3 linked regions of the Homo sapiens genome follow. Changing the gene in region 2 together with the main gene of any one other region gives a genetic interaction. Each region holds a gene or a part of one and is shown on either strand. Other genes may lie near its edges.

Region 1 (3,651 bases), on a different chromosome or scaffold from region 2:
TTGATTATAATACTGTTAACATTTAATTGTTTCAGTAGTTTTTTTAAACATTTATAAAGTAGAAACACATGCTTAATTGTGGACTAGGCCTATGGTCAGACCATTACTACATGAAAACATCTACCATCACCTGGTGGCAGCATATCTGTGTGCAGTTAATTTAAAAGACACATTATGTAAGTTTCTCAAAGGTTAACTCTAAACATAAACAGATCACGAAGAATATCCCATTCTTTTGCCTACTTGTAACTAGCTTTGGCAAGCAGTTGATAGATGCGTCCTTTCACATCTTCAGTTGTCTCTGTATTGGCAATTTGCTCAGGAATCTCCTCCTCTCCCTGGGGAAGCTGTAGAAGCTGCTGCAGGGTAGACTTCAACTCTGGCAGCATGGCTTCCCACTCCTCCTCTGGGTCCAGCACTGCAGCTAAATGAGAGTGTCACTTAGTCTCTTTCACTAGAGTTTCTGACTGCAAGGAGAAGCCTGTCTGGCATTAGGACTCCAAGGCAGTAACTACTTACAAGCTGCTGCAGTTCGCCTCTGGGCCCTCATCTCTTGTAATTTCTGGGTCTCCTTCTGCAGTGGTCCGGCAAGGTCAGCATCACTAAGCTATCAGGTAAAATGAATAGCAGGGTCAGTAAATGACATAATTTCATCCCTGTTTCCATTTAATTCCTTCTCTTTTGGTGGACCAAGTCTACTTACCTTGCAGGAGAAAGGATTATTGGCTAGAAAACTGGCCAGCAGCTGGATGGCATTTTTACATACTAGCACTGACTTGTCTGCCAGACGTCCCACAGCTAAAGCCACCACTGCCTGGAAACGTGTCAGGGGGAGAGCCTGTGTAGGGTAGGAAGAGAAGAATCTGCTCAAGTCCCACATCATCCATTTTGTTCAAGATGATCTTTAAGTATACTCTAAACTGAGCTACCCACTCACTCTAAAAACCCTTTCTACAGAATATAGATTAGGAGTACTCCTTGTAGTGGTAAGACACATTACAGTCCTTAAAGGGAGCCAGATATCCTCGTCCTTGGTAGAGGAAGACTTTTACTACTGATAATAAAAATGTGAATTCTAGACCTCTTTGGGGCAGATATTTATCTTCAACACTGGATTCCTCTTTACACTGGTATATGGAGAGGTACCATATGTTTTTGCCACATAGAAGTTGGTTACCTTCTGCTGGACAATTCGGGTGAAGAGCTGCAAAACACGGCTCCGCACAAAGGAGTTGACATCATGGCCATGGGCTTGTAAAGTATCCAAGAACTGGTCTCTGGTGTCTCGGGCTGCTGCTTCCAGTTGATCGCCACTGAGAACCTGCAGCACCATCTCCGCCATGGCTGCCAGCACAGCATTACGCATCATGTAATTCTAAGAGAGAGAAGCATAGAGGGGTCAAACCTTTAGTCAAGGCGAAGCTTGCTTGTGCTTGGCCATAACTTTTTCCATTAACTGCCTAGGTATTCACTCCCAAGGTCACAGGAGAAAGCTGAATCCCAAAGAGGACTTGTTGCTCAGAGAATGCTAGAACAAGGGCCAAAACCAATTTTTCCTCATAGGGCTCACACAGGAAAGCATGGTAGTAGCTGAATAAAAAAATCACATCCACTCACCAACACACATTTGAAAAGCATTTATTAACTACCCTTCAGCTGAGGTCTCAAAGCCTTTGTTATTGTGGTTGTTTGTTTGTTTTTGAGACGGAGTCTTGCTCTGTTGCCCAGGCTGGAGTGCTGTGGCGCCATCTCGGCTCACTGCAACCTCTGACTCCCGGGTTCAAGTGATTCTCCTGCCTCAGCCTCCCAAGCAGCTGGGATTACAGGTGCCCGCCACCACACCCAGCTAATTTTTGTATTTTTAGTAGAGACAGGATTTCACCATATTGGCCAGGCTGGTCTCAAACTCCTGACCTCGTGATCCACCCTCCTCGGCCTCCCAAAGTGCTGAGATTATAGGCGTGAGCCACCGCGCCCGTCTGTGTGGTTTTTTTTGGTTTTTTTTTTGAGACAGAGTCTCGTTTTGTCACCCAGGTTGGAGTGCAGTGGTGCGATCTCGGCTCACTGTAACCTCCATTTCCCAGGTTCAAGCAACCCTCCCACTTCAGCCTCCCGAGTAGCTAGGATTACAGGTGCGCGCCACCACACCCAGCTAATTTTTTTTTGTATTTTTAGTAGAGATGGGATTTCACCATGTTGGCCAGGCTAGTCTTAAACTCTTGACCTCAAGTGATCCACTCACCTCAGCCTCCCAAAGTGCTGGGATTACAGGCGTGAGCCACCACACCTGGCCTCAAAGTCTTTAATCCTTACTAATAAATATCCCCTCCTTTCCCTCCCACTCTCCTTCAGATGCTTTACTGACAGAAAATGAGACAGAAACATGGAAATCAGCCTTAAGAGTGCCAGCAAGTCCAATACATAATCTAGTGGAGAGCAGGGTTAAGGTTTTGCCAGGCTAAGAACCAGAGAATAGGGTCTTGCACAAAAAGTTAAAGTAAATGAGATGAACAAGTGGACTGTCTTTGTCCTTGACATTCACCTAGGAGTGCCCAACATCAGTATGGGAATCAGCCAGGTTAGCATTCAGGCATAAAAGAGAATTGAGAGAGATGACATGGGTTGATTTGAGAAAGTTCATTGTTTGAGGAAGCAAGGCAAGCCAGCTGGTGGGAAGACGCTTTATCCTGAGGAACAGATGGGACTCAGAATCAAAGCTGAAGGCTAAGCATGGTAGCGCCTGCAATCCCAGCACTTTGGGAGGCTGAGGCAGGAGGGTTGCTTGAGACCAGGAGTTTGAGACTAGCCTGGGCAATATGGCAAGACCCCACCTCTACAAAAACTAAAAAAATTAGCCAGGCATGGTAGTATGTGCCTGAAGTCCCAGCTACTTGGGAGGCTGAGGTGGGAGGATTGCTTGAGCCCAGGAGATCGAGGCTGCAATGAGCTATGATCATGCTCCAGCATGGGTGACAGAGCCAGATCCTACCTCCAAGAAAAAAAAAAAATCAAAGCTGAGTTGCTCTTACTAGACTTAAGCTGCAGAAATGTCATCTCCCTTACCAGAACTGGATAAAAGCAATGTGAATTGAAAGATTAACAGATTAATAAAGAGCTCCTTATTCAACAAACTTGACCTGCTTCTCTACAGAAAGGAAATGTCACAATGATAAATCTAGACAACTTGTCAAAGCTACTTTCTTGTTCTGTTAAGAAACAGCCTTTCAACACTGGACTTAAAATCCCCAGAAAAAGCTCAGTGACCCCTAGTGGACCACCTACTTCTCCATCCAGGTGATCTAGCAAAATGCACATGCTGGACATCAGGATAGCTGGGACACGTTCTGCTAGTTCTGTCAGGAATGCTGCAAAGCCCTTTGTCCCTGAAGGGTCTCGACTCAGCTCTTGGGGACACTTTTGTCCAATCTCTCTACACAGGGAAGAAAACACAGCCATAGCAACATAGATCAATTATTCAGTTCCCAGTAAGGGAAGGTAAGACAGGTATCTAATATCTGAAGGAATCTACTGTTGCACAGATAATGTATTTCCAATCTTTCTTTATTCCCTCCCCAAGGAAAATAAGCATGAGAAACTTCGAGAAGGAAGAGTCACCTTACAATCTCTCCCACTATGCTCTTCATTCCATAG
Region 2 (3,651 bases):
CTGTAGCTTCCACCTCCCAGGTTCAAGTGATTCTTATGCCTCAGCCTCCCAAGTAGCTGAGACTATAGGTGCCCACCACCATGCCGGGCTAATTTTTGTATTTTCAGTAGAGATGAGGTTTCACCATGTTGGCCAGGCTGATGTTGAACTCCTGGTCTCAAGTAATCTGCCGCCTCAGCCTCCCAAACTGTTAGGATTATAGGCGTGAGCCACCGCACCTGGCCAGAACACTCTATCTCTCTCTCTCTCTTTTTTTTTTTTTTTTTTTTTTTTTGAGACATAGTCTCGCTCTGTCACTCAGGCTGAAGTACAGTGGCATGATGATCTCGGCACACTGCAACATCCACCTCCTAGGTTCAAGCGATTCTCATGCCTCAGCCTCCTGAGTAGCTGGGATTACAGGCAGGTACCACCACGCCCAGAAAATTTTTTGTATTTTTAGTAGAGACAGGGTTTCACCATGTTGCCCAGGCTGGACTCAAACTCCTGAGCCCACACACCTGTGCTAGGATTACAGGCATAAGCCACCACGCCCAGCCAGAACATTCTTTCTTTAAGACATAAAAACTGACAATCATAAAGGAAAAGACTGATGCCAGGTACTACAATAAAATTAAGAACTTCAATCAATCAAAGGCACCAGAGAGAGTAAAAAGATGTTACACGTTAGAAAAAAAGATATTTATACCAAAAAGCTCACGAAAGATTGGCAACTCCTACAAATTATTAAGAAATAAGCAAATCAGTTGAAAAATCAACAAAAGATATGAAGAGGCAAGTTACAATAGTAAACAAAAATGGCCAATCAACACATGAAAAGATGTTCAACCTTATTATTAATCAAAGAAATGTAAAATGAATCCATAATGATATACTATTTAGTGTTCATCAGATTGGCATAAAGTCTGACAGTACTAAGTATTGGCAACGATGTGGAGTAACAGGTATTCTCAAGGCCAATGGGAGTAAAAATTCATTTTGGAAAATAATTTGAAATTAGCTACTAAAGTTGAATATGCACATATTCTACAACCTAGTATCTCTACTCTCAGACATACAATTTAAAAGCACTTCCTAAACTTTATAAGAGATAAACTCATACAATGGAATACTTCATAGCAGTGAAAATAAAACAGGAACCAATGTACACAAATCTTGGAAACACAATGCAGAGTCAAAAAAGTTTACATACGCTATCATTCCAACAATATATACAAGTATTCCATTCATATGAACAAAATTCACATAAAGTAACATTTTTAAATTGGTCAATCCAACCAAAAATTCTGTTATGTAAGATAGATAGTTTACTTGCATGTGCATCATTATAATTGCAAGAAAATAAATTATTCTTCAATCAACAGATCAAGTATGCCAAAACAAAAACAGAGAGAGCATTACACTGTACTTTATATTGAGAGTAACTGACCTATCATCCTTATAACACACTCAGAATGTATGTTTTTCCTGACTAAACAATGGGTTTGAAGAATTCTACCAAACGATCAGTATCAACGAATATGCCATATGAAGGAAACCACATGTTATCAAGATATAGAACAGGTGCCTTTTCTTTTTTTTTAGAGGATTAACATACCAATGATCATCAGCAATCAGCACCCCAGATAACTGAATATCATGGCTTGAGTTTGGTTTATACTTTCCAACTGTAGTTGTTCCTTCTTTTATCATATATAGCAGCATCTCAGATAGTTGTGGATCTTCATTCAGATTAACAAGGTTTGGTAAATGATTGTCCATTTGAAACATAATTCCTGCTTTCTGGTAGAAGTCAGAAAAAGAAATTAATCTTAATCACAGTATGAAATTGTTAAATTCACCTAAAACAAATGGTCTATATTAAACATTAAAACAATTCTATATGAAGTCTCACTAAATTAAAGGTTATTTATTTATTTTTTTATTTTTATTTTTTTGAGACAGAGTCTCGCTGTGTCACCCAGGCTGGAGTGCAGTGGCACGATCTCGGCTCACTGCAACCTCTGCCTCCTGGGTTCAAACGATTCTCCTGCTTCAGCCTCCCAAGTAGCTGAGACTACAGGCGCATGCCACCACGCCCGGCTAATTTTTGTATTTTTAGTAGAGATAGGGTTTCGTCATGTTGATCAGGCTGGTCTCGAACTCCTGACCTCAGGTGATCCACCCGCCTCAGCCTCCCAAAGTGCTGGAATTACAGGCGTGAGCCACCGTGCCCGGCCATAAAGGTTTTTTAGACTCTCTCCTCCTTCCTTAGAATCTCTCCTTTGTGACCTCCCTACCTTCTTTGTCCTTCACCATCCTCAGTCTACTCATACATCAATCTATCATCACCAAATTGTGTCTTCTTATTGACTGACCGTCTTTAGAATAGATCAGTTTGTTTTGTTGCATCTTCATTGCCTTCACCACAGGCCCCTGTCAACTCACACCAAAACTACTGAAGCAGCCTCTTGATCACCGTCAACAGCTTCTGTTTTCAATCCATCTTATATCCTATGCCAGGTTAATTCTCTCGAAAGGGTGCTCTCAAAATGTAAATTCCCTGGTCACTTTTTAACAGCTTCTCACTTCCTACAGGATAAAACTTAATTTCCTTGGCCTGGAAATCAAGTCCTTCATAAACTAATCATAACATATCTTTCCAATTGTATCTCCTTATGATCTCATATAAACTGCTTCCAGTAAAACTGATCTACGTACCCTTTCTAAAGACAACTCAAACTTTTCTACCTTTACTTTCAGAGAATTTTCTCTTCCAAGAATGTGCTCTTCCTTTTCTCTTCCTATTAAAATCTTACCCAAACTTCAAAGCCCATCTCAAATGCCACCTCTTTTATGAGATTGGATTGGCCATGCGCAAGGAATTTTCCCTTCTTCTCCTGAATTCTTATAGTACTCCCCCACTACCAATCACTTGAAATACTTTTCATTACATTAGGTTCAACCATATGAAACTGCCAGTGTTCAACCATGCTTTACCTACAAAAATGGCAATTGCTTATGGCTCAATCTACTGAAATCACATTGCATTTCAGTCTTCTATTTACGTTTTGTAAATCTCTCTCTGGATCACAAGCTCTCTGAGGGATGAAACTGTGTTTAATCACCTTGGCTTCCCCTGTTCCTGAAAAGCATAGACATTTAATATATATTTGTAGAACCAAAGTAAATATAACAAGATGGTTTATTCATACTTTAACTTTCCAACTAGTTTATGGGCTGGCTCTAAGCAACCAGTCTTGATCTTAACATTTCTTTATATTAATTTTCCTTACGGTATTGCTTTGTACAGAGTCAGTATATAGTAAGTATTTGAAACATTAAATTTACATGCATTGGCATATTGGCAATATTTATTTCTTGGCATATTTCTTTTATTTTCTAATCAGTTTAGAAAGTTGAAATAATACCTGTAACTCTTTTGTTTCTTGAAGTTTTCTTTTTTCAGCTTGTTCAAACTTTTCTTTCCACACTCTTTCCAAAGACAAAGAAAATAACAGAGTTAAAAACATCCAGATGTATAAGATTGAGAGTCAAGAGACAATCAATGAAAATTAGGCAACTACCTAGTAATATTTAAAATATGATAATCTGGGAGTGGGCTGCTCTATTCATAAGGAAGGTCGGAAAAATACTCAGTATCCTCTTGAG
Region 3 (3,651 bases), on a different chromosome or scaffold from region 2:
CTGGGGTAGATGGGGGTGAGCTTTCAACCTTCACAGGGTTACTGGGCCAGGCAGCACAGTAAAGTGAGAAGTTCCCTGGGCACCAGATCAGTTCATCCCTGACTTGTGCTGGTTTTCCCTTGAAAACATCTTTCCAACTGTGGACACCTTGGTCTCCCAGCCCCCAGCCTCTTATGCCAGTATCAGTATTACTCCAATAGTCTCCTACATGGTCTTACTGCTTTTATTCTGCACTGCCCTCCAACCCAGGCTGCAGCCAGCAATCTTATTAAATGCAAATCAGGCCATCTCTCCTTGCTGGCATGGCTTCTCACAGCCCCTAGAATAAAACCCAAATTCCTTATGGTGGTCCTCAAGGTCAGACAGAAGATCTGGCCCCTGTCTACCTAGGACTTCATCTTGTGTCACTTTCCCCATAATTTATTTGTTTTTTTAAAAAATAACATCTTGTAGAGACAGGGTTTCACTATGTTGCTCAGGCTGGGTTCAAACTTCTGGCCTCAAATGATCCTCCTGCCTTGGCCTCCCAGAGTGCTGCACTTACAGGTGCGAGCCACCGTGCCTGGTTTCTCCCTCTCATTTAAAGATCAAGGTTTTGGCCAGGCGTGGCGGCTCATGCCTGTAATCCCAGCACTTTGGGAGGCCAAGGCACATGGACCACTTGAGGTCAGGAGTTCGAGACTAGCCTGGCCAACATGGTGAAACCCTGTCTCCACAAAAAATACAAAAATTAGCCAGGCGTGGTGGCGTGCACCTGTAATCCCAGCTACTTGGGAGGCTGAGGCACGACAATCGCTTGAACCCGGGAGGTGGAAGTTGCAGCTAGCCAAGATCGCGCTACTGCACTCCAGCTTGGGTGACACAGTGAGACTGTCTTAAAAAAAGATCAATGTTCTTTAAAAGCACCAAACTCTCTTTGCCGCCTTCTCTGCACATGCCATTCCTTCTGCTTACGCCTACTCATCAACGTCAGGTTCCTGCCCTGCGTGGCCCTCTACATTTCCACTTCATAGCAGCCATCACCAATTAAATATCTGAGGGACGCTCCCTTGCCCCATGGCAGCAGGAACTCTGCCTGTCCTGCTCATCACTATATTCCCCAGGTCTGCCACTTAGTAGGTACACAATAAAAAGTAACCTGTGGAGACCTTTTCCAGGTCAAAGTTCACAAACCCAAGAGTCCTGCCCAACTCTAGCCAAGTGTCTAGGCCTGGCATTCACCAGTTGGCCCAGAACCCTCTCAGCAGCCGCAGCCCTAGCCAGACCACGACAGCCACACTGTTGCCTCTGGGCCCTGTTCTTGCCCCATTTCCTGTCTGGAATGCCCTGCCTCCTCCACATCCCTTCCCAGTGAAGCCCACTGTGCTTTGAGGCCCTACTCCAGGGCACCTCTCCCAGGAAGGCTTGTCTAGTCTCACAGGCAGGAGGGTGTCCCTCTCCTGCCCCCAGGGCTGATCTCACACTCAGAGTGCAGCAAGCAGCACCAGACTCCTCTCCCTGCCCCTCTCCGGCTGCAGCCTTTCCAGCTCCTGGTCACCCTACCACAGTTGCTGAACTCATCTGGGCCCACTGGTGTCTGAAGCCCCAGACAGGTTCCTGGAAGGGTTAGAGGCTGGGAGAGGGCAACTCCTAGGGATGGGTGGCAATTACCTCCACGTCTGTCTCATCACTGGAGCTGGAGGTGTCCTCGCTGGAGCTGTCGGCCTGGCCCGCTGACACCATCCCTGAGGATCGGACACGGAGGGGACTGAGGGACTCCCTTTCCAGCCTCACCTGCCCCTCCCCAGCACCTCCCCACAAACCAGCTGCTCATCAAAGCCAGGTGCTGAGCGCTCACCCCTCGTGTGCCTCACATGCACTGAGCTGTGAAGCCCCCTTCTGAGGTGGGTACCATCACCATCCCTATGTTCCCACACATCTCTGAGGCCCTGGGAAGGGCTGTGAGGGGACCCAACAAATATGCACCAGCACCTGACAGTCTACAGAACCTCCATCCACCATCATATCCACTGATGCAGGCCAGACAGATGTCTACTCTACATAGGAAACAGAGGCAAATCAGGCCTTTCAGTTTAGTCTCTGAGCTGCCAGTTGTCCCTGTAACTCACCAGGGAGTCATAAAGCAGAAAATGCTCCAACCACCAGGTGGGCTGTTCAGCCTGAGGCCAGGTCCCTGTAAGCTGACCCTCCCTCGTCTAGGTGATGAGAAAAGTCCTAAGATGCAGGAACCTGGCTGTCCTGGAGACAAACTTTTGATTCCAGAAATGTCCCAGAACTTAAAGCAATGCCTAGGCCTGCCTCACCAGCCCAAGTTCTGGGGACTAGGTTCCTAGAGGTGGGGACTTCTTACCAGGCTTGGCAGCAGCTCCAAAGGCCGGGACGCTGCCCTCCTCCTCAGTTTCTGAGACCAACGTAGTATTTGCTGAGGGCTCTGCTGACTTCCTGGGAGACTTCCCAGAAAGAAGGTTGGCCACCGTCTTCCCAGTGGCAGGGTGTGGCATGGAATTCCCAGTCTTGCCAGCTTTCTCTGTCTCTGCCTACAGAGAACAAGAGTGACAGACACATCTGGTATGGCATGGTGAACTAAGAGCACAGGCCACTTGCATCTGAACCCAATCTTACCACTTCTTAGCTGTGTGAGTTTGGGTAAACTACCCCTTCAATCTGTTTCCCAATCTTTAAAGTGAGGTTAAAAACAGCACCTCCTCTCACCAGAGGTGTTGAGAAAACAGAATCCCAGTTCTTGGGACATGGTAGTTATTTACTAAGTGGTAAGTAGCAGTTTGTTGTTGATCTTATCATTACTTCATAATTACTTTGAGACATTGTTGCTAATGCTCCAGGCAATCGCAGAGGCACAATTCTTTATACATGTATGTATCTAACTCTGCTTTCTGGATTATTAGAAAATGACACCTTGTTTTTTGAGCAGTTTCCAGTTTGGAAAATGCTTTTAGAGTTTCAGAACCACAGATGTCTTGATCACTACGGTGCCTCCACACCTAGCACAGTGCCTGGAACATAACAGGTATTAGTCAAGATCTGTTGAGTGAACGGGTGAACGCAGGCATGAAAGAGGAAAGAAATCGCCTACCCCAGGTGTAGAATGTGCCCAGTGGCCCACTGCAGCAGGCATCATCCTTATCTTTATAGAAAAGTAAACTGAGGCCCAGAGAGGTGAAGGGACTAAGATCCCACAACTGGTGACACAGGTTGAGCTCTGAATCCAGGTGGGGCAATTACTCACAACCCTATCCTTCTCTGACATGTAAGACTGTCCCCTACCAGGCACCTTAAATCCCATAGGCAATAGCTTGGAAGGCAGTCCCACTCACCTTGGCTTTTTCTTTCATGCTTGATGGCAAGTCCGCCCCCAGGACTGAGGAGTTGGTAGATGCTAGTCTTGGGGCTGCAAGAAACAAACATCTGCTAAAGGAGCCAGATGAGCTTTTCTCATCTATGAATGGCAAACAGGTTTCATCTCACCTAACAATTCTATTGGTATTGGCTGCCTGGTGCTGGCATGAGGATCTGAGGCTGAGCCCAGACTTGCAGGAATGAGCTCTGTGATGCATCAGCCAGGTCCACCAGGAGCAAGAGAGAAGAGGATGGTAACATGAAGCTATGTGTCTGCATCCTTGATGGATTCCC

What was found.
Region 1: changes in KIF14 (region 2) and NCAPD2 together harm fitness more than expected from each alone (negative genetic interaction), as found in Homo sapiens cells (one large-scale study listed by BioGRID).
Region 3: changes in KIF14 (region 2) and TCOF1 together harm fitness more than expected from each alone (negative genetic interaction), as found in Homo sapiens cells (one large-scale study listed by BioGRID).

What each region holds. Positions count from the first base shown.
Region 1 is NC_000012.12:6,514,552-6,518,202, reverse strand, and holds part of NCAPD2 (condensin complex subunit 1), read right to left. Parts: coding exon 3,616-3,651; intron 3,431-3,615; coding exon 3,283-3,430; intron 1,376-3,282; coding exon 1,178-1,375; intron 839-1,177; coding exon 704-838; intron 608-703; coding exon 520-607; intron 425-519; coding exon 244-424; intron 1-243. UniProt on the Homo sapiens protein: Regulatory subunit of the condensin complex, a complex required for conversion of interphase chromatin into mitotic-like condense chromosomes.
Region 2 is NC_000001.11:200,596,640-200,600,290, forward strand, and holds part of KIF14 (kinesin-like protein KIF14), read right to left. Parts: intron 3,475-3,651; coding exon 3,411-3,474; intron 1,783-3,410; coding exon 1,598-1,782; intron 1-1,597. UniProt on the Homo sapiens protein: Microtubule motor protein that binds to microtubules with high affinity through each tubulin heterodimer and has an ATPase activity. Plays a role in many processes like cell division, cytokinesis and also in cell proliferation and apoptosis.
Region 3 is NC_000005.10:150,367,602-150,371,252, reverse strand, and holds part of TCOF1 (treacle protein), read right to left. Parts: intron 3,410-3,651; coding exon 3,336-3,409; intron 2,538-3,335; coding exon 2,351-2,537; intron 1,725-2,350; coding exon 1,651-1,724; intron 1-1,650.